7 linked regions of the Homo sapiens genome follow. The protein of the gene in region 6 purifies or fractionates together with the protein of the main gene of each other region. This does not show direct contact. Each region holds a gene or a part of one and is shown on either strand. Other genes may lie near its edges.

Region 1 (4,081 bases), on a different chromosome or scaffold from region 6:
TGTTGAGAATTAATTTCTAACATCTCTATTTCCTGTAGGAAGTAGAAGCACTATTTAAAGGAGATAATTTACCAAAATTTATAAACTGTGAATTTGCATATAATGATAATTGGTTTATTACATTTGAAACAGAAGCTGATGCACAACAGGTAAGTTCTTTCCACCATCACCCTATGAATTGCATAGTTTACCAGTTTTTACTATTAGTGCATGTTGGGACTAAACTTGGGCATTGAGATTACTTGTGATGGTAAGTTTGAATATAATCTGCAGAGGAAATCAAGTTGTAGAAACTTAAATATTTGAGTGTATTTGTATGGACAATTTTTATAGCAATATAAAAAGCATGTGATTTTACTTTCTAAGGACAACAAGCTAAGCAACCTAGGAAAATCAGTTTTGTTCTTCTATCTGGGCAGAGAAGTTTTACTATTTGCAAAGTGTTTGGGGGGAAATTTGAACCTAATCTTCATCTCCCAGCAGACTTCATTGTATTTTGGAAGATGCTTTTAATGGTATTGAGAAGTAAGCTCTGTAAGGAGGCGTGAGGAGTTAGTAGTTTTCCTGCTTTTAAGGGAAGCATCTTATTTGTGAGGAAACTAACGCACATATTATAAAGTGTTAAATGGTATAAACAGTATGTGGGGTTCAGAAAAGAAAACACAGAAACCTGAAAGATGGGTTTTAATTGGATGGAGGGGGAAAAGGGGAACGGAAGATAGAGTAACCATTTTTGTGGAGTGGAGTGTGAGCTCTGCCAGCCCGTGTGGCGAATGTGGTCGGATGATATTGAATCAGGTGCAGGGCCTTCACAGTTTTATAGGGGTTTAATGTAGAATTAACATGGAGAAGAACAAGGAGATATATCAAGAATGACTTTTGGATGTTATGATCCTAATCCTTTTCCTTCCTGTCTGGTATTTCCTGAACTGCATTCTCCTAATCTGAAATTGGGATGAATACTAGGAACTCAGTATTCATCATTTTCCACCAGGTCAAGGTTCTTAGCCAGTGGTCTTTGGGAGACTTCTATGGCATCTGTTAATACTTACAAAATTGTGTACAAATCTTGTTTGTGAGAATTTGGGGTACACGTTCCATAGCTCTTATGAGGTTATTTTAAGGGATCTGTGACCCAGGGAGTGTCAAGAATCATTATTCTAGGTTCTGTTCACCATAATTTAATTATATATTTCCCTATTTGAGCTATTGAGTGAACTATTGGTGCCTCTTATTCATAAGGTTAATCGAATGGAATTTTGTACTTAATTTTGCCCTTAGGCTTACAAATACCTTCGAGAAGAAGTCAAAACTTTTCAAGGAAAACCAATTAAGGTAAGCAAGACCATTGGTTATACTTTGTTTATTTGCAAATTGATGTTCTTAAGTATTCTAATAGAAACTTACATATTTTCAAACAGGCACGGATAAAAGCAAAGGCAATAGCTATAAACACATTTTTGCCAAAGAATGGATTTAGACCCCTGGACGTGAGCCTGTATGCCCAGCAGCGCTACGCGACGTCGTTCTACTTCCCTCCCATGTACAGCCCCCAGCAGCAGTTCCCCCTGTACAGCCTGATCACTCCCCAGACGTGGTCAGCAACGCACAGCTATCTTGACCCACCCTTGGTACGTCATTTCTTTACTAGGAATTTATGTTGTAGACACTATGCTAGATAATTTGAAGGATTAAAATCCTCATCTAATAGGAAGCCAGATATGTGTGCAGTCTGACATACTAAAACAGACCTTCAAGTTATGTGGGGGATTTTAAATGTAGCTGAGAACAGAGCTTATGCATAAAGAACTTTGGATTGCTGTGAGCACAATCCTTGCACAGCCCGTCTCCCCTCTTGTCATGCAGCTCTTAGCAAGACGCAGAGGGCGATAAGTGCTGTAGTGTACCTGGCGTCCCCTACACAGAGTACAATGCAAGGGGGATTAACTGAGGAGGAAGAGGTGTTTAATAGGCTTCTGACAGCAAGGCCAAGGAGAAGGCCTGCTGTTTTACCAGCCTTATTTTACTCACTTCTCACCAGCATTAGAGTTGGTCGACAGGATTAATTTTTATGGATTTTGGCCTTTGTTAAGGCCTATGGTTGGAATTCATAAGTCTGTACTGGATCTAGACATTGTCTCTTTGTGTGCTGCTATAGATGCTTGAAAGATCAAGTGCATTCTGGGTGGGAATTAGCATGAGTTTGGTGGCATTGGATGCACGAGAGTCAGCAATACACGGATGAGCATGTCCTTGAAGCTGAAGTCTAGTTGAGAAGTGAAGATGGGTTCATGGCCTAGAGGTTTGCATGAGGTAGCAATGCAGGTTAGTTGGAATTGGAGAGATTGAAGGGTAGCATACATAGAAGGTTATGGTCAGAAAGCAGAAATTGAGTTAGTAACTTTGAGAAGAGTTCATGTCCAGGGTTTCGCTGTGGACTAAGGGAAAGACTGAGTGGTCCTCAGGGTCGGATGGCTGGGAGCCAGGCACCCTGATGTGCAGGGATGTCACCGCTGACAGGCAGAAAAGGAGGGTAGGTGCAGAGCAGAGAGAACTTGAGAAAACAAGTGCCTGTATACACGGAAAGTAAAGATACGGGTCCATGAAACAACTCAGGCTGGAAAAGTCAAACATGCCAAGGAGACACGTGTACAGAATGCCAGAACACTGACAGGTCTTATCAGGGATTGTGTTGTCATCTAGGTTGAGCTTTTCAGGTTAAGTATGAGTTTTTCAGAAGGAATCAAAGAGAAGTTTCATGAACAGAAGATGGTCGTAGATTCATGGGTGTCTGAGCTGAAGCGTACACCGGGTGGCAGGGAGTTGGGGAACGAGCTGGCAGTTTCCAGGCCTAACTGCGCAGGTGCTTAGCTGTCCTGAGGCATGTGGGCTTTGGCCTAGTGCTTGTGGGAAGGTGTCTGAGGTTTCTAAGCGGAGAAATGAAACCATACTCCATTTAGAAAATAGCTCCTAAGGCCGTGTGAAGGGCAGGTGGGGACAGGGAGAGATTTTCAGAGGACCCCAATTCCCCCTGAGTCTGGAACCACCGCAGTGTAAGAACCTTTGGTAAAGTTACTTCTGTCTCTTTTGAGTAAGTCCTGATGGTAAGAAAAGTTTCTGGCTTTTTGAAGTAGCACATTCTATAAAAGTGTACCCATAGCTGAATACTTCGTTTTCCCAAAAGCATATCATGAGAGAACCTCAGAGAGACTTGAGTCCGTAGGCTCTGGGTGTTGAAGAATCATCGCTGCACGTGGCTTGCCATGCTAGTCCTTTCAGTTCTTCCTGCAGCAGTTGCTTCTTCCGTTTCTTTAATCATGGTTGACCCTCTCGGGGATCCTTGGGGTTCTGGGTCAGCTTATGGCCTTGACTTATGTTGTATGTTCAGGTTGCGGTGTGTGCCAGACAGCTGGTCCTGCTCTGAGTCTGTGATACTGGGGCTCTCCATCGCAGCCTTTTACTTGTGCTAAAACATGTGCGTCCTTTGTTCTGCAGCTGAAGAGATTGTGCCTATTAATCCCCAACAAGTAATAATAGGAACGCATTAATAATCAACTTTATTTTTTATATATGACCAATTTTATTTTTTATCTTGAGCAAAATTACTGGAATATCAGGGCTCTGTCTGTAAAATGACTTGCTGGAAATGATTAGTCCTCATTGCTCTGCCCATGATTTACAGCCTCAGATCCAGGTCTGCATTCATGGCTCTTCAAGTGTGATGTATTTTCTTTTTCTTTGAGACAGAGTCTCTCTCTGTCGCCCAGGCTGGAGTGCAGTGGCCGGATCTTGGCTCACTGCAAGCTCCGCCTCCCGGGTTCACGCCATTCTCCTGCCTCAGCCTCTTGAGTAGCTGGGACTACAGGCGCCCGCCACTACGCCCGGATAATTTTTTTGTATTTTTAGTAGAGACGGGGTTTCACCATGTTAGCCAGGATGGTCTTGATCTCCTGACCTTTTGATCCGCCCCCCCTTGGCCTCCCAAAGTGCTGGGGTTATAGGCATGAGCCACTGCGCCCGGCCATGTGTGATGTATTTTAAAAAGTCCGATTCTTACAGAGTGAAGAGTTTCTCAAGTAGC
Region 2 (4,081 bases), on a different chromosome or scaffold from region 6:
AGCAGACCAAAAAACAAGTAGACGCCCTGATTTTCAGGGGTCCCTTGGCCTTTTGAAAAACATTTTTTCAACCTGTAATTGATTTGACTTTCAACACTTAGCTGCAGTCCAATGCAGAAATCTTTAATGCACCTGTTTAGAATATGCTCTTCCTGAGGCTTAGCCGTGGATCCTTCGGCACTGGATGTTAGGGAAGGGGGTACGTTTCGGTAAACAATGACAGTGACTTCTGTTTGGAACCATAGTTTCTTTGTTGGAACGAAGCTCAACTCATATAAGGAGTTTGGAACCCCCTGCCGGACTTACAACCTCCAACTTCTCTCTAATGAGGCTCTTGGGAGCTGTACAAAAAGGTGAGGCTGGAGTTTGACTGTTGTCTTCTGTTGCAGGTTCTGGGCATTTGGAAAAGTTTCTCTTCGGGCTGTTAAGCAAGGCTAAAGAGGAGAGGAAAAAAATGTTAAAATGTGTGTTGTCTTCCTAGTTTTCCATTTGTCTGTGTTCATTTTGGAGTTGGACATAATTGAAAGCACCAAAGCTAATAACAGCTACCATTTATTCAACAGCTTGTATTTTTTAATACCTACCCCCAACTTTCCCTTGCCCACATTGATTGTGCCTCCTCCCAAAGCCAGAAAAACTCTAAACCTCAAGTTAACCAGTTGTATTAGCCTCCTCCCACTAAAGATTTTAACCAAGCACCCAAAACAAGAGTAACTAATTTGAATCTAGTCAAGTTAAGGTTCTTTGATGTTAGCCTTTATGTGTTTAAAATATGTGCGTGTAAATCTCTGAATTACAGTTCCATCACTCAGGCTAACTGGGAAAACTTGAATGACTCGCGGATACTGGCCCTAGTTTCAGTTGCTGTAACAACAAGCCGTGTTTCCTTTTGAACAGGCTGGATCAGGTGCAACACCACCATAAGGAAGAGTGGATTCGGTGGCATCACGATGCTCTTCACAGGATACTTCGTCCTGTGTTGTAGCTGGAGTTTCAGACGTCTGAGTAAGTCTTTCTATATTTCTAGCCTAAATAACAGGTCCCATTCCGTTATGTGGACCTCCAAGGGATTCTCTGAATTTTTTTTTTTTTTTTTTTTTTTTACAGCTTTACAGTATCTGGCATGCCCTGGTGAATGAGCTATTGCCTGGGGTTTCTGGGTTTTATTTTTTTGAGATACAGTTTTGCTCTTGTTGCCCAGGCTGGAGTGCAATGGCACGATCTCAGCTCACTGCAACCTCTGCCTCCTGGGTTCAAGTGATTCTCCTGCCTCAGCCTCTCGAGTAGCTGGGATTATAGGCATGCACCACCATGCCCGGCTAATTTTGTATTTTTAGTAGAGACGGGGTTTCTCCATGTGGGTCAGGCTGGTCTCGAACTGCCGACCTCAGGTGATCCGCCCACCTCAGCCTCCCAAAGTGCTAAGATTACAGGCATAAGCCACTGCACCTGGCAGGCTCCGGGGTTTTATTAGAGGCTTGGTTGTAATGGCCTGTATAAGATTTGACTAGAATTTACATAATTGCCCTTGTCCTCCATTTCATGTTGTCTTTTTTTTTTTTTTTTCCCACCCAGGCTAGAGTGCAGTGGCATGATCTCAGCTCACTGTAACCTCTGCCTCCTAGGTTCAAGTGATTCTTCTGCCTCAGCCTCCTGAGTAGCTGGGACTACAGGTGTGTGTCACCATGCCTGGCTAACTTTGTTTTTGTATTTTTAGTAGAGACAGGGTTTTCACCATATTGGCCAGGCTAGTCTCGAACTCCTGACCTCATGATTCTCCTGCCTCGGCCTCCCAAAGTGCTGGAATTACAGGCATGAGCCACCGCACTCAGCCTTTGTAGCTTTTTTCCCTTCCCTGCTAAAAGGTCAGGTACCTAAGAACTGTTACCCTGCTCCAATGGAAGGTGCTTTTCCTTGGTGCCTAAGAGCACCTTTTTGGCATTGAAACCAAACACCTTTACACCACAAAAGAGAGAAGGAGGAATAGAATACAGCTGTCACTTACCAATGTGTCTAAGTCTTATTGCTATCTCAGTTAATCTACTTTGAACACTTAAAAAACAAAGTGCCATTCTCCAAGTTTCAGCTTGCACTAAGTCTTAACCAGAAGGAAAATACCTTAATTTCATTTATCTTAATTCAAGATGTGTTTGTTCATTTCTTATTGTATTATTAAAAAAATCCTTCTAGTTAAAAAGATGAGTGGGTATCAAAAATATCAGCATTTTTGTATAATTAAATTTTTGTGCTGGTTTTTGTACAATCAAAAACCAGTATTTTGGGGCCGGGCGCGGTGGCTCACGCCTGTAATCCCAGCACTTTGGGAGGCCGAGGCTGGCAGATCACCTGAGGTCATGAGTTCAAGACCAGCCTGCCCAACGTGGTGAAACCCTGTCTCTACTAAAAATACAAAGATTAGCTGGGCGTGGTGGCGGGCGCCTGTAGTCCCAGCTACTCGGGAGGCTGAGGCAGGAGAATTGCTAGAACCCAGGAGGCAGAGGTTGCAGTGAGCCGAGATCGCGCCACTACTCCAGCCTGGGCAACAAGTGAAACTGCATCTCAAAAAAAAAAAAAAAAAAAAAAAACCACCAGTATTTTTGTACAATTAAAACAAAAAGCCCACTTTCAGATGAAAACTTCAGGTGTAAAAGTACAAGATAACGATGAATTCTGAAGGCCAGCATAATTCACACACTGGACTTCTTAAGAAAAAAAAAAATCACAATTTGATGCTAATTGGGATTCGTTTGATGAAATCAGTGCCTAGTGAGTAGCGGGTAGGTCCGACAGCAGGAACAAGGCGGCAGCACTCCTGCATGCTGGCTGGGATGGCCTCGCCGCCATCTCTTGTATCAGACACCTGGCCATGGGTGAGGAAAAGAAGTGCCTTTCTGATCGTCCTGCATAAATGGAGAGGCCCAAAACCAAGAGTCATTTCTCCCACAGAGAAAAGGGCTTTTCTTAAAGTTTTACCAGTCTGAAAGGGATTGTTTGATACCTGACATTAATGAACAGAGACTGAAGAAAGTGAAACAAACTTCTCATTGTGCTTAATACTCTATTTCTAAACTTATAAAACAAAAAGAGAATGATCTGTAGAGGCAAAAGATAGTAACAGTCATTGGAAGTGGCCTCTCGGATCCTTACATTTGTCTCTGTTTATCCAAAGAGCTGCAGCGGTGGCGTAAGTAGTGTTGACCTGGACATCACTTAAAGCTCTGGAACAGCAAAGGGCGTACAGTGGAGACGACTGCAATACATACTTAACAGTTTAAAAATGTATAATATTTGGGACAGGGAGAGGGGAGTGAAAAAAATAAAGAATAAAATTATTGGAATCTAAAATAATGATACAGGAAGTAAACGTATTATTAATATAGACAGATCTGGTTCTGTCTGGATGTTCTTGGCTTGCTCTCAGGAGCAACTGAGAATTAGAGAAAAACTAGTTTTGTTTAACCATAAAGTTGTTATTCAAGGAGATGTGAAGATGACAAAGTTCATCACTAAAATTAAGAAGTCACTTCTCAGTAAAAAGCTAGTATCTCATTACCATTCAGCTATATGAGATACCAGACTACTACCTATATGTTGATACAGGAAAGTATCTGAATTGGCAGAAAATAAGCCCACATCAGGCCCTTCCCCTTAGTTTCTTTGGGGCCCTTGACCAGATCTTGATAAGGTGTGAGAAACACAAGAGCTAAGGATGGGCATTCGAGTTGCAGGTAAGCCTCCGAAAAAAAGCTTACAAATATTTTTAAGCTGATTTTTAAAATAGCACACTAACTATAATGTTAAATCACATTTTATACATCTTAATTGAGTATAATAATGAACCGGTGGCTAATGTATCATCTCTTCCTGGAAACTTTTCAGAATCCCACCCCTATCTATCCCTTTCTCAAGAGTTTCTGTGCATTACTGAGAAATTCCTCTCCATTTGTTAGGGTTGTTTTTGGCTGGTGGGTTTTCTGTGTCTCTTCATCTCATCAAACTATTCAGTGTCTGATTTTTTGACTTCTGCTTTGGCCCACAGAGAGTAACTTGGATACTTACAGGTAGAAAAAGCTTTGAGGAA
Region 3 (4,081 bases), on a different chromosome or scaffold from region 6:
GCCTGCCTGGGGCCACTTTTCTTTTTAACTTTGGAGGGCGGGGAGAACTTGGGCATGTTGTAAAGCAGATAATGCAGTGCGCCGTCATTTCCCTCACAGGTGCCGTGTGCATCACTAACGCAGCTTCTCCACCACATAGCTCAAGTGCCTGTTCACATTTCACAAAATAAGCACAGATTCCTTAGCTCCCAGTCTGTGTTCAGTTTTCCCATCAACAAGCACGCCCTTTTATGGTTGACATGCCGGCACCCTACCTCCAGCGCCTGGGGGCTCTCCCTGCAAGGGCTCTCCCATGGCTGCTGCCCCTCGTGAGCCGTAGACTAGGAGCCCCGGGCGGGCTCTGTCGGCCCTGACACTGGGGCCGGAGCGGGAGCCCTGTATTAGTCCATTCTCATGTCGCTAATAAAGATCTACCACAGACTGGGTAATTTATAAAGAAAAAGAGGCTTAATGGACTCAAAGTTCCACATGGCTGTGCAGGCCTCACCATCATGGTGGAAGGCAAAGGAGGAGCAAAGTCACGTCTTACGTGGCGGCAGGCGAGAGAGTGTGCAGGGGAACTGCCCTTTATACTAACATCAGATCTCGTGAGACTTAATATCAAGAGAACAGCACGGGAAAGACCCACCCCCATGATTCAGTTCCCTCCCACAGGGTCCCTCCCAGGATACGTGGGGATTATGGGAGCTACAGTTCAAGATGGGATTCGGGTGGGGACACGACCAAATTGTACCAAGCTCTGACGGTGCTGCCGGTCTCTTCCAGGACCTCTACCTGGAGCGCCTGCTGCTGTGTGTGCAGGCTCTGGTGTCTGTGTGTCATGAGGACTGTGGCGTGGCCAGCCTGCAGCTCTTGGACGTGCTGCTGACAATAGTGGCCCTCGCAGGTGCTACCGGCCTGAGGGACAAGGTAAGGCTGACAGTGGTGGCTGCTGCTTGACCTAGCGGAGCTCACAGCTGGAAGGCATCTCTAAGTGAGGTGAACTGTCTCCTATGCATCCCCTCTGTGCTTGACCAGCAAAGACCAGGGATTGAGAACCTTGCGGGTGAGTCCCCGGGCAACGGCCTTCGGGGCAGCTCTCCAGCTGCCAGTGTATTCTGGCATCAGGGAGTGGAGACAGCTGTTTAATGTTAGGGTCTTCAGCAAAGAAGCAAACAAGAAATAAGACGTAACCTTTAAACCTGCGCACTTGAGTAGGGTTTAATAGTGCACATGTCGCTGGGCGTGGCATCTCACGCCTGTAATCCCAGCACTTTGGGAGGCCGAGGTGGGCGGATCACCTGAGGTCAGGAGTTTGAGACCAGCCTGACCAACATGGTGAAACCCCGTCTCTACTAAAAATACAAAAAATTAGCCAGGCGTGTTGGCATGTGCCTGTAGTCCCAGCTACTCAGGAGGCTGAGGCAGGAAAATTGCTTGAACCAGGGAAGCAGAGGTTGCAGTGAGCCAAGATCGTGCCACTGCACTCCAGCCTGGGCTGAGCAACAGAGCGAGACTCCGTCCAAAAAAAAAAAAAAGTGCATGTGCATGTGTGACTGAGTCGAGAGAAGATACCGTGATTTCCCGCTCTCATTGCAGCACAGCGTTCAGAAGTACTTCTCGCCCATGGGCTCCCTGTTTATGCCCAAAAATCATCTTTTTTCTTCAGTGGAGTCTCGCTCTGTCACCCAGGCTGGAGTGCAGTGGCGCGATCTCGGCTCACTGCAACTTCTGCCTCCCAGGTTCAAGTGATTCTCCTGCCTCAGCCTCCTGAGTAGCCGGGATTACAGGCGCCCACCACCATACCCGGCTAATTTTTATATTTTTAGTAGAGACAAGGTTTTGCCACGTTGGCCAGGTTGGTCTCAAGCTCCTGACTGCAGGTGATCCACCTGCCTCAGCCTCCCAAAGGGCTGGGATCATAGGCATGAGCCACCGCACCTGGCCATTATGCCCAAAAATCTTTTAACCCCAACCTTCTAATGGGCTTCTAGGGCCCCTGGAGGCCCCAGTATCTGTCTGCCTCTCTGGAAGCTGAGACTTAGTTCCTCCTCCCATTCTGTCTCTGTGGACAGCCCCTCTCGGCAGATTCTCTCTCTGGGAGATTTACGGCCTGAATGTACTATGGGGAACCTGGTGTGGAGGAGGCTGCTGCCCTCCCCTTCCTTCTTGGGGCCTCTAAAAACAAGCTTCCCAAGGGGCGTGTGTCTCAGCAGATGCTGTCACTGTTAGGGCCTGAGGTACCAGCAAAAGCAAAGTCTTTGCCTGCTGGTCATGGGGGACGAAGCCAGGTAGCCCCAGATTCAGACTCCAGGCTTGGGGCAATGGCCACCGGGGAGCCTCAGCCCTTCCTCTGTTCCTAAGCCCCCAAGGAGAGCAGCCAGCTAAAAGTAAAAGGTGGCCAAGGTTATCATCTCTGTCTGCCCAGTTACTTTTACCTGGAGGTCTGGTCTGCTGGGCTTAACTCTTTAAGCCACTTGCCCGCCCCTCTCTGCTCCTCACCACCTCAGAGGAGCCCTGCCTGCCCAGGCGGACACCACGTCCGTGTAAGCCCCAGGACCACCTGTGCTGTGTGCATCCCAGTGTGCACAGTGCCTGCTTCATGATTCGCTGCAGAGACGGCGTTGGTGTGAACGGGATCAGGGTCTCGCCCTGCACCCGCGGCTCTCGCTCTCCTGCACCCTGGGCGGGGCTCCCTGTGGCAGCCTCCCTCCCGATTATCCTGGCAGGCCCGGCCTGTGTGGTTCTTACGCGTGAGGGGGATAGTGAGTCCCAGCAGGCAGGCAGGCTTGAGCCCTGAGTGTTGGAATTGTCTCAGTCTCTGACTTGTAACCTCCAGGCACAGGAGACGATGGACTCACTGGCCATGGTGGAGGGTGTCAGCAGCTGCCAGGACCTCTACCGCAAGCACATTGGTCCCCTCCTGGAGCGGGTGACCGCGTCGCACCTTGACTGGACCGCACACTCGCCGGAGCTCCTGCAGTTCAGTGTCATCGTCGCACAGTCAGGTGAGCCGTCCCGACAGCTGGCGTGCCGTGCCTGGCCCCACTCAGGCTACACACCTGCTCCCCCAGGTGCTCAGCAGGTACCAGCGCCGACCAGCTGAGCTGTGGTTCACTGAAGCGTGTTGTTAAAAGTACCCAATAGTCACTCTTGCCTGGGGAGAAGCAGCATTTTAAGGAGCATCGCATTGAAGACTGTGGGACGCAGCTCTTCCACTTGGCCCGGGCACACGCTTTCATGTGAAACCTTCAAAGTGTGCTTTTCCGTGGCCTGTTTTGTAGCCTGGCTTCTTAAATACGTCTGGATTTTGTTGCAGAATCTAGATGTCTAGCCGCATGGGTGCTGTGTGTGTGACATGGGGGCCTTAGCCCCAGCCCCTCTGAGACCAGCATTTCTGTGGTTCTCTTTGAGCCTGCGGATCAGCCACTTTTCCTGGGATGGACAGTGTGGCCCAGTGGGGCTTCAGCGCGGGGCAAGATCCACTGCAGAACCCTAAGGAGACGTCCGCTCAGCAGCCATAGTGCCTTGGGACACACGGCCCGCGCTGCTCCACGGGCCGTGAACTCGCCGCGGTAGCTCTTCCTCGTTTGCCTCCCCGGCCCTCCCGCTCCCGCCTGCAGCTCCGAGTGCCCCCGCCTCCTGTTGGATGTGTGCACCAGGGTGGTCGTGCTCTGCATCTGAGGATGCTAAGATCGTTCTTACACAATCTCTGTGCCTGGTAGGGACTCACCTTTTTTTTCCTGAGACTTGGAAAAATACCCAAAATTGTTCTTTGTCAGTTGCATTCAAAACTGTTTCCAAATTAGAAAAGAAAATACTGGCTGGGCGTGGTGGCTCACGCCTGTAATCCCAGCACTTTGGGAGGCTGAAGTGGGAGGATCACTTGAGCTCAGGAGTTCGAGACCAGCCTGGCCAACACGGCAAGAGCTCATCTCTACAAAAAGATGAAAAAAACCGCACGTGCACCTCTGAATCTAAAATTTAAAAATAAATAAAATACAGTTAGCCAGGCGTGGTGGTGTGCGCCTGTGGCCCCAGCTACTCAGGAAGCTGAAGCGGGAGGATCCCTGGAGCCCAGGAGTTCGAAGCTTCAGTGAGC
Region 4 (4,081 bases), on a different chromosome or scaffold from region 6:
AAAAGACGCCACTGAAATCACCAAATGTGTAAGGATTATTAGTTATGTCAAAATGTAAAAGACAAAGGGAGAAGCTGCTATGTGCCTAATATTTTATTTGACAGCAATTTTTTATTCTCAGTAAAATTATAGAAGAACTTTTTTGATTATTCCACAACTCAATCAGATAGAACCAATCTGAATCAGCCTTAACAGTTGTTTATTATTACTTAGAGTAGGTCAGTCCAGATTATACAACTTTTTCTATATCCTTTATGAAATAATGTTTGTCTTTAAAGAACTTACTTTAACAGTGAATTTCATATTTAATATTGTGGCTTTAAAATAGAAAATAGATGCATGTAAATGTTTATGTCCATAAACATGCTTAGGATACCATGCTGATTAGGAAAAATAGAGATGAAACTAAATCACAACTCTTGTTTTTTATTTAAATGTGTGTGTGTGTGTGTGTGTGTGTGTGTAAAAGACTAGAGGGAAGTTTCAAAAACAGTGCTTTGACAGTGTGCCCACTTTTTTCTTTTGATTTCTCAAATTTCTCTACAGTAAGCATATATTACTTTTAGTAATTTTTATTAAAACTCACTTTAAAAACCTGCTCATGTTTTAATCCATTAATTTTCCTTAATCCAGTAGGTTTCCTTATAGCAAACTACCCTGTGGAATTTATTTATTTATTTGTTTATTTATTTATTTTTGAGACAGTGTCTCGCTCTATTGCCCAGGCTGGAGTGCAGTGGTGCGATCTCGGCTCACTGCAACCTCCACATCCCGGGTTCAAGCAATCCTCCTGCCTCAGCCTCCTGAGTAGCTGGCACTACAGGTGCCTGTAACCACGCCCAGCTAATTTTTGTATTTTTAGTAGAGACAGGGTTTCACCACGTTGGTCAGGCTGGTCTCGAACTCCTGACCTCGTGATCCACCCGCCTCGGCCTCCCAAAGTGCTGGGATTACAGGCATGAGCCACCACATCCGGCCGGAAATAATTTAAAATGTGCTATATTATAACATTATTTAAAATTACAGTATTTAAAACTATCTAGATGTCTAACAATAGAAGAATGTGAAGTAAATGATGGTACAGTCATAGGATGGAATATCATATGACTATTAAAATGTTATTTACAGTGGTTTTGATAATATGCCAAGATACTTATTATAAATGCAAAGTGGAAAATCGATTTAAAATTTTATATGTGGGGCCAGGTGTGGTGCCTCACACCTGTAATCCCAACATTTTGGGAGGCCAAGGTGGAAGGATCACCTGAGACCAGCCTGGCCACATAATGAGTCCCTGCCTCTACAAAAAGTAAACAAAATTAGCCAGGTGTGATGGCATGTGCCTATAGTCCCAGCTAGTTGGGAAGCTAAGGTGGGAGGATCATTTGAGCCCAGGAGTTCAAGGCTGCAGTGAGCCATCATCATGCCACTGTTCTCCAGCCTGAGTGACAGAGCAAGACCTTGTCTCCAAAAAAATAAAAAGAAAAGAAATTGTATATGTTATGTAATGTCTACATTTTTTTAAATGCATGGAAAAAAGCCAAAATGTTAACTGCAGCACTCTGCTGAAGCGAGAATGCAAAAGTGATTGTGTGCCTTCTATCCATGTTGTTTACTAGGTGGATTTTAAACGTCTGCAAAGTGTGCAAATGTTAAAATGTGATTTAAGCCTACTTGTGCTCTATGTTTCATATTTGTTTCATTTTGAGATAGGCCTGAACTTTTCCGATTAAGAGTTCTTGAGTTAAATGCATCTGATGAACGTGGAATACAAGTAGTTCGAGAGAAAGTGAAAAATTTTGCTCAATTAACTGTGTCAGGAAGTCGCTCAGAGTAAGTAAATTTGCCCTCCCTCCTCCATAGCATGTATTATTTTAAATATGTATTTCTGCCATCGCTCCTCAGCCTTTTGGCTAAGATCAAGTGTATTTCTGCCAAATTGTCAACTTTTCATGTTAGAAGACTATCCTGCCTGAGGTAAACAGGGATTTAATCAACTACTTATGCTCCTTAGGTGGCAAAGGTCCAGGATTACATTGGTGGTACCTAGACATATGTGTAAATTTTACATGAGCACATTTCAAAATTTGTGAAAGTGAATGACTAATTTTTGATATGCACCTTAAATTGATGGTGCAGTCAGTCACAACCGCTATAGCACCTAATGTATTTTTATGTGAAATGAAGACTGGGAGGTGGACTAAAAGACTCTGAGATCCCTTCTACCATTAATACTTGAAATCTGTTTTCTTGGTATAATTTTCATACAATTATGTTAATGCCACTTTTGGTGGGAGAAAAACTTTAATGGCAGATTACCAAAAATCAATGTACAGAAGGTAATAACCCGCAACGTGGGAGAAAATATTTACAAATCATATACCTAAAAAGGTACTTATATCTAGAACATATGAAGAACTTTAAAAACTCAGTAATAAAAACAAATAACCCAATTAAAAAATGGGCAAAGGCCGGGCGCAGTGGTTCACACCTGTAATCCCAGCACTTTGGGAGGCCGAGGCAGGTGGATCACAAGGTCAGGAGATCGAGACCATCCTGGCGAACATGGTGAAACCCCATCTCTACTAAAAATACAAAAAATTAGCTGGGTGTGGTGGCGGGCGCCTGTAGTCCCAGCTACTCGGGAGGCTGAGGCAGGAGTATGGCGTGAACCCAGGAGGCAGAGCTTGCAGTGAGCCAAGATCGCACCACTGCACTCCAGCCTGGGCGACAGAGCAAGACTCTATCTCAAAAAAAAAAAAAAGGCAAAGGATCTGCATAGACATTTCGTGCATGTGTAATAAGCACATTAAAAGATGCTCATCAACATCATTATCCATTTGGGAAATGAAAATCAAAGCCACATTGAAATACCACGTAACTCCCACTAGGATGGCTATGATAAAAAATACAGAAAATAACTAGCATTGACAAGGATGTGGAGAAATGGTAAACCGCATACATTGCTGGTTGGAATGTAAAATGGTACAGCCTCTTGGAAGACATGTCTGCTCAAAAACATGTACACAAATGTTCACAGCAGCATTATTCTTAATAGCCAAAACATGGAAACAGCCCAAATGTCCAACCGATTAATGGATGAATAAATGTGGTGTATCTATTTGCCATAGTATTTGACAATACAAAGGAATGACGCAAACACATGCTACAATATGGATGAACCTTTAAAATATGTTAAGTGGAAGAAGTCAGCCACAAAAGACTGCATATTATATGTTCCATTCATATCATGTCCAGAATAGGCAAATCTATAGAGATGAAAGTAGACTAATGATTGCCTAGAGCTGGGAATGACTGGGGGAAGAAGAGTGACTCCTAATAGGTACAAAGTTTCTTTTAGGAGTGATAAAAATGTTCTAAAATTAGATTGTGGTAATGGTTGCACAACTTTGTGAACATACAGAAAAACACTGAATTGTACATTTTAAATGGGTGAATTGTATGGTACGTGTATCTTTCAACAAAGCTGTTAAAACCAATATACATATTAATGTTCAACTCTTATGTGTTTCTCTGAATCAGTGGGAAGCCGTGTCCGCCTTTTAAGATTGTGATTCTGGATGAAGCAGATTCTATGACCTCAGCTGCTCAGGCAGCTTTAAGACGTACCATGGAGAAGGAGTCGAAAACCACCCGATTCTGTCTTATCTGTAACTATGTCAGTCGGTATGTATATTGCCCTGAAGACAGATGCTAGGCAGCCTTATTTTCATAACCCAATTAGGGAAAGGAAATTTAGGATTTTCAAGGCTACATTAATTTTTCCTCCATCAAATCTTGATTTGTTCTTGATAAAAATGAGTTCTTTTGGGGAAATTCTTTCTTTAGACACCAACTTGGTTTTTCTCATCTTCCACAGAATAATTGAACCCCTGACCTCTAGATGTTCAAAATTCCGCTTCAAGCCTCTGTCAGATAAAATTCAACAGCAGCGATTACTAGACATTGCCAAGAAGGAAAATGTCAAAATTAGTGATGAGGTAATTACTAATTATTACAATTATTAGAGTTACTAATTCCTTTGATGAATGCATATAAAGAGGCCCTGAAAGATTTAAAT
Region 5 (4,081 bases), on a different chromosome or scaffold from region 6:
GCTGGGAAGCAGCACTGGTAAATAAGCCAATATTCCATTTTATCTGCAAGAGTGTTAACTCATGCCCTCCTATGATGCCACATACCCTCACCCATGTTACCTCATTTTTAGTATCTGTAGGGCAGTTTTTATTTATCTGATGAAGAAACTCTTAGTCAATTTAAGTTTCTGGGCAGTAGAAATAAATCTTACGATATATATTAAATATATATTAAAATATATTAAAAATATATAAATATATATATTTCAAAGGAGGAATTTTTAATGGTTAGTTAAGTAAAGGAAGCAAGTGGTTTACTCTTAAAGTCTTTCAGGGAATCCATAGCTATCAGTACCTAGGGAGGAAAAAACTATTAGTCTTTTATGAAAGTATAGCTTATTCCCAGGGTAAGGGGTTGTTTTATTCTTTGAGATTTACTAATTGTGATAAATAGCACTAATTATGGTGACTATTCGTATTCAAATTGTTTAACTTAAGCTTACAATCTAGATAGAATGACTAAGGACATCCCAAATGAGGTCAGTAGTGCTGGTAAATTGCCCAGACAGGAATGTATGAGATATATTTTAAGGCAAGATGTATACCAGTTTATGTAAAGCGAACGTTTCACAGTGGCAAAGTGGGAGAGAAGATTGGAGCCATTATGTAGACAGCCTTACACACCAAATCAAAGGTTCTTAGTTGTTCAGGAAATAAGACGTGTGCACAACTCCCTCCCCGTAATACACACTCTCTTAGTTACTTCTGTCAGCTACTGCGTTAAGTGCTGTCATATGGGAAATGGTAACAGAAAGTTCTTTGCTTATCCAAAAAGCCCTTCAGATCTTACTTTTCTTTTTTCCTTAGCATCTTCTACCTGCAAAAGCTCCTTGACTTTTGAGAATTCCTTACAGAACTGCTAAATGTTTTATAAGGGGGAAGGAACTCCTGAAGGCTTTTTTCAGTGGGGAGTAACAAAGCAAAAGGATCTGATTGTAATCCACAAATTGGTGGGTTTGGGAGACCACAGCCATAACCTAGGAATAATGTGAGATCTTGAACTAAGGGGAGTACACTTATTTTTCACCTGTCATTCAGACCTAGATAGTCCTGCTGGACTTTAACAATAAGAGCATATTAATGGAAACAAGTGGTTACACAGGACAGGAACAGATGCAGCATTTATTGATGCTGCTTTTCCTTGGCCCCTTGGCTCCAGAATTGGGAGCACAGCTACTAGTGAAATTCTCTGTGTAGGAGGGTGCTGCCACAGTTGAGAAGACAGCCAAACTATTGCCACAGTGGTTTGGGAATAGAATACACACACACTTCTATTGTTAGCAGTGGCTTACTAATGCTTCCGTAAATTAAGCACTCTTTCATGTAAGGGAAATAGGTAAAATAATCATATAATGAATCTGTTTCACTTGAATGTCCCCTGATATTTAATGCTCCTTATTTACAGGAATGAGGGGGATATGTCTGAATCACGTGAGGAGTGGAAAGTGGTGGCAGAAGCACTTTTTGTCATTGAGGAATACTTTAGGATAATTCATCCTTTTCCTAATGTCCTTTTTTCCTGTGTGCTTTCTTCAAGTATGGCCCTACTTTTGTCTGTTAAGGAGAGGTGTGACAGGGTCAAACTTTAGCCCATGTCTGTCTAAATTTGAATTATAGGAGGTAGAATTTTGCTTTTGTAGCCTATATGCACAAACACAAACTCAATGTATAATCGGTCAAGAACAAGAACTAGAGTAGTTATACTCTAAATTCAAGTTTCAGAAGTGTGCAGTGGAAGTGATGAGAAGAGGGAGGAATGGAGGCAAAAGAGGCGGTGTCATATCTTAAATAGTATTTGCTCATGCATCACCATTGGCCTCTCCTCTTGGGTGCGAAGAAAGCAAAGGGAAGGCTGGGTGAGGCAGAATAGCAGTATAGCGTGTCTTCTGTAGCCTTAGCTATTCTGTTTACATATTCAAACTTCCAAACTTGCCCTCATGACTTTAAATGTCTTAAAGATTAGTCATGCCTCCCCACTACTTTCTTATTATTCTTAAACCATTTTGATAGTTCATGTGGTGGTGAAGACACATGATTATTGTGAAGAAAAGTACTTAAAAACTCTTGTATCCAAAATTTCTTTAGAATATATTAGAGAAAAGCACCAAACCCCTTAAATTTAGTTATAATCAAAATGGAGCTATAAAATGAGCAGATTGATTAAATAAACACCTTTTTAATGTTAATTAGCTTTTCATAGGAAGGAGAAGCCCAGAAGAGTAAGAAAAGTAGCAAGACTAGGAACAACAAGCCATGGCAGACAGCGATGGTTAGTTAAGTAACCATGCCTTCATTGGATGACCTTGCAGGGTTAGGTAGAATAGAAAAACAAAACTACCACATGTGCTTTCCACTTTTCATGATTGGTTGAATTCTGGACTGTGCTGTACCTGCATAAGCAGACTGTTTGGTTGCTTTGAATTAAAAAATAAGGTTGTGAATAGATTCCATTTGATTCAGTATATTTTATTTAGGCATGCCCAAAGATGCAAAAAGAGTAAGAATTTTAACTCTCAGTCAAGCAGTAAAGCACAGTAGTTAATAATGTAGAGCAAATTACTCTGTGCCTCAGTTTTCCCATCTGAAAAGTGAGGCTGTTAACCTCATAGAGTTCTGAAATTCAAATGTGACTGTATTTAAAGCTCTTAGAACAGCATTCAGCACATAGTAAATACCTTATAATTGTTAACTCTTTATATTGTAATTATTATTGTAGTAGGTGGGCTCTTTCTGCCAGTTGGTACCACCTGTAATGGCTAACTCATAGGATTATGATAATGCAATGTCTGGCATATGGTATGTATTTAGTAAATATTATCTCTTACCGCTATTACTATAGAGTGCTCCTAAGTAATATTTTTTAGCATGTTGTGGGTTATTGTTTGTCCTTGGAAGTGATAAAATTGCATTAAAAATTGTTAATTGAAACTGACCTCCATCTTGATTTGTTAGAACTAATGGACCTTTATTTTGCCAGACAGACCCCTCATTTAGAAAAAATAGCCTAAATTTGATTTCTAAGTTAGGAAAATATAAGATGTCTTAAAAAGATTAAAGAGTTTTGGAGACAGAGAAGTTCTATAGGAAACATCCTGTTTCTCGTATGAGTTAATTTTTCCAGTATGAGAATATTTCCTTTTGATAATATATTATTCTTAAGCCATCAAATTTTCATACAAATCTTTATGAGCTTTTGACTATTGTCCTTCAAAGTTTTGTTGTCCTTCAAAACTTGAAATTCTACGGAATTGCTTATTTTGTCTGATCTCTTTCATAGGCCATTGAAAAGTATTGCCGAGTTAATGGTGGGTTTTCTGGAGTCAAAGATGTATATTCCTCTACTCCTACACATGATGATGTACAGCAGAGCTTTTTTCTTGCTGAAACATTAAAGTAAGTATATAGCTTTAAAAAATATTTTTATACTAGACTGGTTTTGCTGTGTGATCACTAGATGATGAATTACAACTATGTGACAGGTTACACTAAATTTTGTTGTAAATATCTTTTTATGTAATTGGGTGTGTAAATTTTTAGCTACATCTCAAAAAGAATGACTTAGACTATAAGGTAGGTATTTTATCAAAAAAGTACTTAGTACCTGTTAAAATTTTTTGTTCTTTGCTCTTTAATGTGCATTAAAATCACCTGGAAGGCTTCGTAATACACAGGTAACTAGGTCCACACTCACGAAGTTTCAGTAGATCTGGAGTTTAGCTTAAAAATTTGCATTTCTAACAAGCTCCCATGTGTTACTGATAATGCTGGTCCTGGACTCATACCTGAGCTCCCTACTGTAGCTAATGAAATCTGTTAGGAATGATCATGCAGTTTTGATAGTACTAAATGACCATAGCCACTCATCCACCCGATGAGCCTTACTGTAAAGATACACATAAAAGGAACAATGGAAAAGAGTAGACAACTTTATTTTCGTCTTATACTCCAAACCCCAGGTAGAGGTCTCTGTAAACAGACCTGGAAGAGATGGAGATTGTAAATATGTCCACTTCCCTAAAGACTGACCAAATAAATATCTCT
Region 6 (4,081 bases):
CCTCCAAATAGGGAAATCTGCATCCTATATTTTGTCCATCAGCCTTGATGTAATCAACACACTGTAATGCATGATCCAAGCCCTCATACCTGTAAAATGAGTGTTGTGAGAATTGTGTTTAAATAACAATCTTTTCCAGTATCAAGGCACTTCATTTTCAATTATATTAGGATACCATGTCAGTTTAAAAATCATTTAATAATGTACAATATTTATTAAGCACCTACTATATGTCAGGCACTATGATAAGCAATAGGGAAAAAACAGTAGGGAAAGCAGACATAGTCCCCGATTTCATGGAGCTTACAATTTGTTGGGAGTCCTCGCAAAATCTCAAAGACAAGGATTCTTACTTGTGTACTTAGGTTATATTGATTCATCAACAAGGTTTGTGAATCAAAGAATAAGATTCCTAGTAAGAAAACCTGTGATTTGTACAAATAATCCTGCATGATATTGCCTTTTAAGTTATTTTACTGGGGAAGTTATTTTAAAAGAAAGCAAATTTTAAAGCAGACTTAGAAAATATTATGTTTAATAAAATGAATGAAAATCTGGAGTATACAATACACATCAAGAGATAAACCTCAGAAAAGCCAACTGTAGGAGGGCAAAAGGAAAAAGAAGGAGTTGTTTGGCAAGTAAATATTTAATTTTCTCATCTATTAAATGAGAAATGTTACCATATCATTTTAAGTTAACCTTATTCCAGTAATAAAGCTAAAAGGAACTAGGAGTGATTCCCTACTAAATTCGAAAGCAACAAATGCTTGCTATTTTCCTAAAGAATAGCTTGCAATGCAAACCATGACATTATCTGTAAAAGCAGTCAAATCCCTGTTGAAAAGAGGCCAATGTAGCAGCTGATAAGGTGCCTGTACACATATCTGGACTCTACTAAATTAACCTTATGCCAACTATTTACTTTAGGGAGAGTTTGCAAAATTGTTGTCTCTTGGTTAGTTCACTTGATTAGAGTTTGGGAGACTTCAGTTCCAGGCTTAACTCCATACAGACTTACTTGATGTCAGCAGGGAAGGCTTTATTTTCCAATCTCTAAAATGTTAATGTTTATTCCTCCCTATTTCACCAAGATGAGGATCAAATTATATCAAATATGAACCACAATGTACAGGAGGGCAGAGACTTTCTCTTATTCATGCTTTTGTCCTTTTTATCTAGAACACTGCCTGGCATTTAAAAGATGCTTAATATTTGTTGAATTAATGAACAAATAATTTAGATCTTTGAAATTTACCTATCCAATTCCAGATGAGGAAACAAAAATTCTAAAAGAAAAAATTACTTGCCCAAGGCCGCCAAGTTAAATGATGCTAGAGCAGGGATTAGAACCCAGATCTCAGGATTGTTAATAGTTTATAGCTTATGATTTATCTATTATTATTTTCTAAAGAAAGATGCCATGATAATTTGGAACTAGAACTCACCAATAGTAATGCTTAGTCCTCTCTTGATTTTTCCATTATTTAGTAAATGCATATGTTTGGATAATTACCTATCAGTTTATCAGTGCTATCACTTGTTTCAGCTATGTAATAAATATTTAGTGCTAATCTACTACGGGTATAGTACTTTGGAGGTAGGCAAGAGAAATATAATAAACAATTCATGCCCACCAATCCCTTAAAAATTTAACAGGAGACAAAGCACACATATATGAGAAAAAATTTAAATGCCATCTGGACAATAAACAATTACAGGCTATAAAAAAAAATAGTTCAAGGCCAGGCGCAGTGGCTCACGCCTGTAATCTCAGCGCTTTCGGAGGCTGAGGTGGGCAGATCACTTGAGGTAAGGAGCTTGAGACCAGCATGGGCAACATTGTGAAACCCCATCTCTACTAAAAATGCAAAAGTTAGCCAGGTGTGGTGGCACACGCCCATAATCCCAGCTGCTCGGGAGGCTGAGGCATGAGAATCGCTTGAACCCAGGAGGTGGAGGCTGCAGTGAGCCGAGATGGCACCACTGCACTCCAGCCTGTGTGACAGAGGGAGACTCTTGTCTCAAACAAACAAACAAAAAAAAAAACAAAGTAATAGCTCAAGAAAAACAAAACAGAAGCTGACATGATCAGTTAAAGGTTAATGAAACTGGGGAGCAGATGAGCCTTGAAAAAGATGGATAAAAATTGGTGAAAGAAAGATAGAGCCAGAGGGCATTCCAGAAGGTAATGCAAACAAAGGTATAAAAGGCAATAACACGGGTGAGAAAAAAATGTAGAGATGGATCTAAATTGAGTGGAGCATTCACATTGGTAATAGTAGACAGTATGGCAGCCTAGATTTTATCCTGGGGCAATGAGTAGACACAGGAGGTTTTTGAACAAGAGAGTGGTATATGAAAATGGCAATATAGGAAGATAAAGCTGGCTACAGTGTGCAGAATGAATAAAAAGGGGAGAGATTGGAAGGGGAGAGATTGGGAGCAGAGCGACCGTCATTTTGGAAGCAATGGCAATCATCCAGGTGTGGAATGAGGGAAGCCTAAAGTAGAGCTCTTACAGTAGAGATGGTAGGTACTTAACAGATGTGCAACCTTGCAAAGGAGCATCAGAACATGGTGATCATGTTACCCTAAAACAATTAAGAAATTAAGAAGATACACGAGTCACAATGTCCAAGTTTAAAAGCTTCAGTGACAGTTAACAAAGGAGGGAGTCAGAAAAAAATTCAGTTTAATAGATAACTGATTTTTTAAAAAAACAAGAATATAAAATATGTCAAAATTGTTTAAGTTCTAAATTCATCTATCTAAAGGATACAAAATTAACCCAGTACAGAAACAATTATTGCATTCCTTATATCACCCATAGAATACCTTCCAGTATCTACATCCTAAAACCACTTACACCCATTGAAAACCTCAAATAATTGTAAACAATTATCATCATAAATACAACTCTGACAAGTATAATGAATTTAACTTAGTGAAAATATAGTTTACTCATACTATCGACTAACTTGAGTAGACATTTTTTAATATGGAATTCTAATTATAAAAATACTTACCAGTAAAACAAGTTGTAATTGGTATCAAGAAGTACACCTATGCCAGGTTTCCAAGAACAGAGTAAATATTGCCAATTGTAATATACGCAATCCATATCCTGAACTTTAGTTTCTGGAATTCCTAAGGAACAAATCAACTGTGAATGTTTGAAAGGCTTGGTGATGAATCATTTGTGAAATCATTTCTCAATTTTACTTCATTTCCTATGACCTCTCCATTTTATTTTGCAATCAACATAACAGGATTATTTCAAAAGGAAGTTACTGGGAATCACTTCACGATAAGAGGGACATGCAAAACCAAAAAACATTTGAGGGCTCATTTACTCATATTAGTATAAGCATATGCAAAAGTAGTAAATTGATTATTCTAGGATGCTCTGAGCAGATGAGCAAATACTCATGAATGTTTACTAATATGACCCCAAAACTGGGAACTAAATCAATAAAATAATATACAGGTTTTGCCAAAGGTATTTGCTGATTTAAAGAATTTTAAAAGGCTAATCACCAACTACAAGAAAGATTCTATTTTGTGCCACACTGTCACAGGATCTATTGTGCCTACAGCCTGGTACATAAGATTAAGGGACTTATTCCCAAATGAATTGTTCTGATAGTATTAAATATGAAAAGAGAGCTTTGTTTTAACCTTGTGGTGATATCCAATAAGTAGTTTCTGCCCAGGAACTTTGAACTTCTGATCCATTTGTGCATTGCCATGGTAAAAGCGTGTGTATCTTCGCTTCAATGCCCTTGTTAAGATCAAACCCATCTTTGTAATGTAGATTCTTAGTAATGATGGTCTGTTTGACAAAAAGATGAGACAAAGTCAAGCTTAGAAACCTCCATGGTATAGTGAGCTATATTAATAAGACTAATAAATCATTAATACCCTGGAGAGTTCCCAATATCTAAGACAATCCTAGAGACTATTTGATACAATGCCACAGATACATTTCCAGCAGAGCTCACCTCTGTATGTCATATCATTTTATGAGATCATTTGAATCTTAACATCTAATTCCAAATAAAAACAAAAACTTTTGGAA
Region 7 (4,037 bases), on a different chromosome or scaffold from region 6:
GTTCAAGACCAGCCTGGCCAACATGGTGAAACTCTGTCTCTACTAAAAATACAAATTAGCTGGGCGTGGTGGCCTACGCCTGTAATCCAGCTACATGGGAGGCTGAGGCAGGAGAATCGCTTGAACCCAGGAGGCAGAGGTTGCAGTGAGCAGAGATCACACCACTGCACTGCATCCTGGGCAACAAGAGTAAAACTCCATCTCAAAAAAAACAGAAACAAAAACAAAAAAAATCCTACTATATACCATTCTCTTTTCTCTGTTTCAGGCTGTATTCTCTGTCTGGTCCTTTCCTCATATCCATAAATTTGCCAGTTCCCCACGTCTATTTCCTTTATATTTATCAGGTCAACCAACTGCTAATCCTTTCACATGACTGGTAAAGCCACCTTTGACAGTACCAGCTATCTTCCTGTATCTATCTTCCTGTAAGATAACTTTGATCATGTCACTTCTTTGCTCATTAAGTTTAAACTCTTTAAGTGGCACTCAAGTTCCTTCACAAAGGATTCTGACCTGACTTCTGGACTTCTGAATTACTCCTATCCAGTAGGATTCCTAAACTCCAAGCTAATAGTCCTTCTCTACTGTCCTTTGAATAAGTAGAGGAGGCCCAGCTGTTTCTATCTCATTCCTTATTCATCTAACACTATTTGGATGAAGATGTTGTCTTAGTAGTTTAAGATTGGGAGGATGAAGGATATAGATGAAATATTTAGTATTAATATCCAATATATGCTATGTGCTAAAGGAGTGGTAGAGGCTATTCATTGATGTATATTTTCCTTTTCTCTCTAACTGGTTACATATTAAAGAATAAAATGTTTATTTTACTTTTATTTTTTAAATACAGTGTCACACTATATTGCCCAGGCTGGTCTCAAGGGGTCCTCTTGCCTCGGCCTTTGCAAAGTGCTCGGCTGAGCCATGCATCTGGCCAAGAATAAAATTTTTAGCACTTGTATTTGTTGAGCTATGTTTTCTCAGGACATCAAATTTAGTTGTAATAATCTTTAACTTTTCAAAGAACAAACATACCTCTCTCACTATTGTTTGTATTTGTGTAAATTTTCAGGCTTTTTTTTTTCCATTACTGATTTGTGGCTTAACAGAAATAATTTTCCACAGCAGTTCCATTTATTCCACAACTCCTAGGACATTGTTACAGTTAAAAGAGCAAGAACTTTGCAATGACAAAGGCCAAGAGTAGCATTCTGAATTCTACCCCCACCCCCATCCTTTCAGCAGTGTGACTTCAGGTAAATTGTGACCTCTCCAAATTTCTTTCTCCTAACTCTAACATGGGGATAATAATACCTACTTCATAGGGTTATTGCAAAAATTAAATGAGTAGGTGGAAACAACTTCACAGTCCTTCATACATACTAAGAACTCGACAAATAGAAATTATCAATACAATTATTACTATTCAAAAGCAAGAGCACTACTGTCTAGATTATCTGGTAACTCTGATTTTGAAAACCTGAGCACAAGATAATGAAACTGCACTGTAGCAGTTACCTAAATTCTGGTAGTACAAACTAAATGAGCACTGTCTACACTTTAATATGTCCCTTATTTTACTTGACCCCTCTAGAAAGCAAATTATTATATGTATGATTATTCATCATGACAGAGGCATAGAAATATGTAAAATAATTGAAATTATATAATGTCTGGGATTTGCTTCAAAATAACCCAGGATAGCCGGGTGCGATGACTCCCGCCTGTAATCCCAACACTTTGGGAGGCCAAGGAGGGAGGATCGCTTAAGCCAAGGAGTTCAAAGATAGCCTGAGCAACATAAGGAGACCCCATCTCTACAAAGGGGGGGGGGGGGGAAAGCCGGGCGTGATGGCGCCTGCCTGTAGTCCCAGCTAGTGGGGAGGCTGAGGCGTGAGGATCGCTGGGGCCCAGGAGGTGGAGGCTGCAGTGGGTAGAGATCCCGCCACTGCACTCCAGCCTGGGTGACAGAGACCCTGTCTCAAAAACGCAAAATAACCCGGATTAGGGGAGCAAGACTGCCCACGTATTGATAATTACTGAAACTGGGTAATGAGTACAGTGAATTCCTTATATCCTTCGTTCAATTTCTCCACAGTTTGAAGATTTCCATAATAAAATGCTGCTGTTGTTAATGCCCAAAGGCCGGCTTTGGGGTTTCCTGCAAACCCTGGTCATGGTCAGAAGATACACTGGGAAGTTCTAGGAGGCGAAAAGCGACACAGCAACCACAGGAAGCTGGTTAAACTTCCCGGCGGATCAGCCAGCGCACTGCTCCTCCCGGAGGCCGGCTGGCGGTGCACCCGCGCAGTCCGGCTCCTGAGCCCGTTAAGGGCGCAGCACCCAAGGGAGCCGCCGCGAAGGGCGGTCTCCCCAGGACCGCCGCCTGGCGGCCGGCGCGGGAACCGGGGGTCCGAAAGATGGACCGAAGGTCGGGGGAGGGGGCAGGAGGTGTAGGGGTAGATTGGCGGGTGGGCGAGTCTCAGCCTTCAGGGCAAGTCAGCCGACTTCCCTCAGCTCCTCCGGAGCCCCCGACCCACGCGCCCTCAGCCGAGGCAGTCTCTGCCTCCCGGCCGCGGGGCAAACACTCAACCGGCCCAGGATCCCGCCGGCCTCCCTGCGTTCCCGAACCGAGCTCCTTCAGCTCCTGTTCTGACTGTTTCCAGGGCATCCCATCGCCGTCAGGCCTGCAGCCGACTTCATCACCCGCTAGCCAACCGCTTTTCCGAGTTCCCACCCTACTCACCTCGGCCGCGCGGCAGCCAGCACCCTCTCCGGCTCCTCAGGCTTCTAGCTTGGCTGTCCCGTGGCGTTGCTGCCAATCAGCCAATCCCCGCCCCAAGCCTGAGCCAGGCTGATCAATCAGCTGTTTCCTCAGGCTCGGAGGCGGGCACAAGAAGCTCGGCAGAGGACGCGGCAACCGCTCCGCAAGCCGGCTGCTGAGAGTCACAGTCGGTGTGCGCACGCGCGGAGCTCTGAGAGGGGCGTGTGCTTTTGTGCGGACCTTGCTTTGTGCCTTCACCGTCCTGTCCTGGGAAGTGCTTTTGTCAGCTTCATGCTTTAGGGGTTTAGGGACACCCACATTCTGAATGTAGCCGCAGATGTGTATTACCTTGAAAAAGGCTGCGAGTCGTAAGCTTTTGTTAACCTAACATGTGGAGCCCATTTCACCCCACGCTGTAGGGACCTGTGTCCACCCGGCAGATCTAATGCCTATGCGGACCTCACATCCGAGATGTTTCTCTTTAGGCAGAGCAGGAGTGCGGGGATTACAAAGTGCCTCATGGATAAGTATTTTACTTTACCATGTTCGGTTCCAGCGTCTGTTCAGTCCGATTCATTTGGGGCACGTGCTTTCTAAAGATTTGAATACTCTAGGACACTCTGGATTTCAAATAATTGTCGTGAAAATATGATTATTACATTTCTAGCTAACTTATGCAGTGTAGTAATGTGCGTAGGCGTGATGAAAGATTCCTATGTAGGGTAGGAAACCTGTCCGTATTTTTGTATGGCTTTTGAAGAGGCTGTTGCTGATTGGCTGTCTCTCTTACCCTCCCATTGCAATTGATCCCGGAGGTCGCTGGGCTGTCACTGGATCTCTGATGTTCTTGCCCCGGGTGGCACAAGTCTCTTCCTAGTGAGGGCTTTCCTCCTTCACCCAGAGCATTAACTCATTTACTCAACAACGGCTTGTTGGGGGACAACTATGACAGCAGAAAGGTTGTTAAAAGCCTTGAGCCACGCCCTAAGTGAGCCTACAAGATAACGAGGAGATAACACAAACTAAACAAAAACACAAACTTAATCAAATATTATAATGGAATCGAGGTGGGAGCCTGGGCGCCTCCATAATGTCTCAGGGAATACTTCCTGAGAAGTGAGTGCTTGTCTGAGGCTGAATGAAAGAGCAGGAGCTTTGGAGCCGAAAGGGTGGGAGCAATGGACGGTGGCGATTCTGTCAAAGGGCACTAATTTCTTCCTCTGAGATCTTTCCGGAGGGTATTTACTGCTAAGCTAATGAAGCTTGTGTT

The links.
Region 1: the proteins of IL13RA2 (region 6) and LARP4B purify together in Homo sapiens (affinity purification with mass spectrometry; 2 studies listed by BioGRID and IntAct, with this or other methods). This does not show direct contact.
Region 2: the proteins of IL13RA2 (region 6) and MTNAP1 purify together in Homo sapiens (affinity purification with mass spectrometry; 2 studies listed by BioGRID and IntAct, with this or other methods). This does not show direct contact.
Region 3: the proteins of IL13RA2 (region 6) and DNAAF5 purify together in Homo sapiens (affinity purification with mass spectrometry; 2 studies listed by BioGRID and IntAct, with this or other methods). This does not show direct contact.
Region 4: the proteins of IL13RA2 (region 6) and RFC4 purify together in Homo sapiens (affinity purification with mass spectrometry; 2 studies listed by BioGRID and IntAct, with this or other methods). This does not show direct contact.
Region 5: the proteins of IL13RA2 (region 6) and MAN1A2 purify together in Homo sapiens (affinity purification with mass spectrometry; 2 studies listed by BioGRID and IntAct, with this or other methods). This does not show direct contact.
Region 7: the proteins of IL13RA2 (region 6) and MTFR1 purify together in Homo sapiens (affinity purification with mass spectrometry; 2 studies listed by BioGRID and IntAct, with this or other methods). This does not show direct contact.

Annotation. Positions count from the first base shown.
Region 1 is NC_000010.11:826,935-831,015, reverse strand, and holds part of LARP4B (la-related protein 4B), read left to right. Parts: intron 1-38; coding exon 39-149; intron 150-1,281; coding exon 1,282-1,335; intron 1,336-1,421; coding exon 1,422-1,631; intron 1,632-4,081. UniProt on the Homo sapiens protein: Stimulates mRNA translation.
Region 2 is NC_000017.11:73,241,999-73,246,079, forward strand, and holds part of MTNAP1 (mitochondrial nucleoid-associated protein 1), read left to right. Parts: intron 1-102; exon of another isoform or gene 103-245; coding exon 246-353; exon of another isoform or gene 354-424; coding exon of another isoform or gene 425-434; intron 435-897; coding exon 898-1,005; intron 1,006-3,169; coding exon of another isoform or gene 3,170-3,192; exon of another isoform or gene 3,193-3,348; intron 3,349-4,081. Other genes in the region: CPSF4L (putative cleavage and polyadenylation specificity factor subunit 4-like protein), read right to left, coding at 425-434. UniProt on the Homo sapiens protein: Critical regulator of mitochondrial DNA (mtDNA) abundance. Binds dsDNA throughout the mitochondrial genome without sequence specificity and controls mtDNA copy number by promoting its replication.
Region 3 is NC_000007.14:760,988-765,068, forward strand, and holds part of DNAAF5 (dynein axonemal assembly factor 5), read left to right. Parts: intron 1-765; coding exon 766-909; intron 910-2,818; coding exon 2,819-2,987; intron 2,988-4,081. UniProt on the Homo sapiens protein: Cytoplasmic protein involved in the delivery of the dynein machinery to the motile cilium.
Region 4 is NC_000003.12:186,792,410-186,796,490, reverse strand, and holds part of RFC4 (replication factor C subunit 4), read left to right. Parts: intron 1-1,713; coding exon 1,714-1,833; intron 1,834-3,543; coding exon 3,544-3,687; intron 3,688-3,880; coding exon 3,881-4,001; intron 4,002-4,081. UniProt on the Homo sapiens protein: Subunit of the replication factor C (RFC) complex which acts during elongation of primed DNA templates by DNA polymerases delta and epsilon, and is necessary for ATP-dependent loading of proliferating cell nuclear antigen (PCNA) onto primed DNA.
Region 5 is NC_000001.11:117,499,538-117,503,618, forward strand, and holds part of MAN1A2 (mannosyl-oligosaccharide 1,2-alpha-mannosidase IB), read left to right. Parts: coding exon 1-17; intron 18-3,317; coding exon 3,318-3,433; intron 3,434-4,081. UniProt on the Homo sapiens protein: Involved in the maturation of Asn-linked oligosaccharides. Progressively trim alpha-1,2-linked mannose residues from Man(9)GlcNAc(2) to produce Man(5)GlcNAc(2).
Region 6 is NC_000023.11:115,010,740-115,014,820, forward strand, and holds part of IL13RA2 (interleukin-13 receptor subunit alpha-2 precursor), read right to left. Parts: intron 3,836-4,081; coding exon 3,682-3,835; intron 3,151-3,681; coding exon 3,030-3,150; intron 90-3,029; coding exon 1-89. UniProt on the Homo sapiens protein: Cell surface receptor that plays a role in the regulation of IL-13-mediated responses. Functions as a decoy receptor that inhibits IL-13- and IL-4-mediated signal transduction via the JAK-STAT pathway and thereby modulates immune responses and inflammation.
Region 7 is NC_000008.11:65,643,497-65,647,533, reverse strand, and holds the start of MTFR1 (mitochondrial fission regulator 1 isoform 1 precursor), read right to left. Parts: upstream 2,801-4,037; 5' UTR 2,750-2,800; exon of another isoform or gene 1,039-2,749; intron 1-1,038. UniProt on the Homo sapiens protein: May play a role in mitochondrial aerobic respiration. May also regulate mitochondrial organization and fission.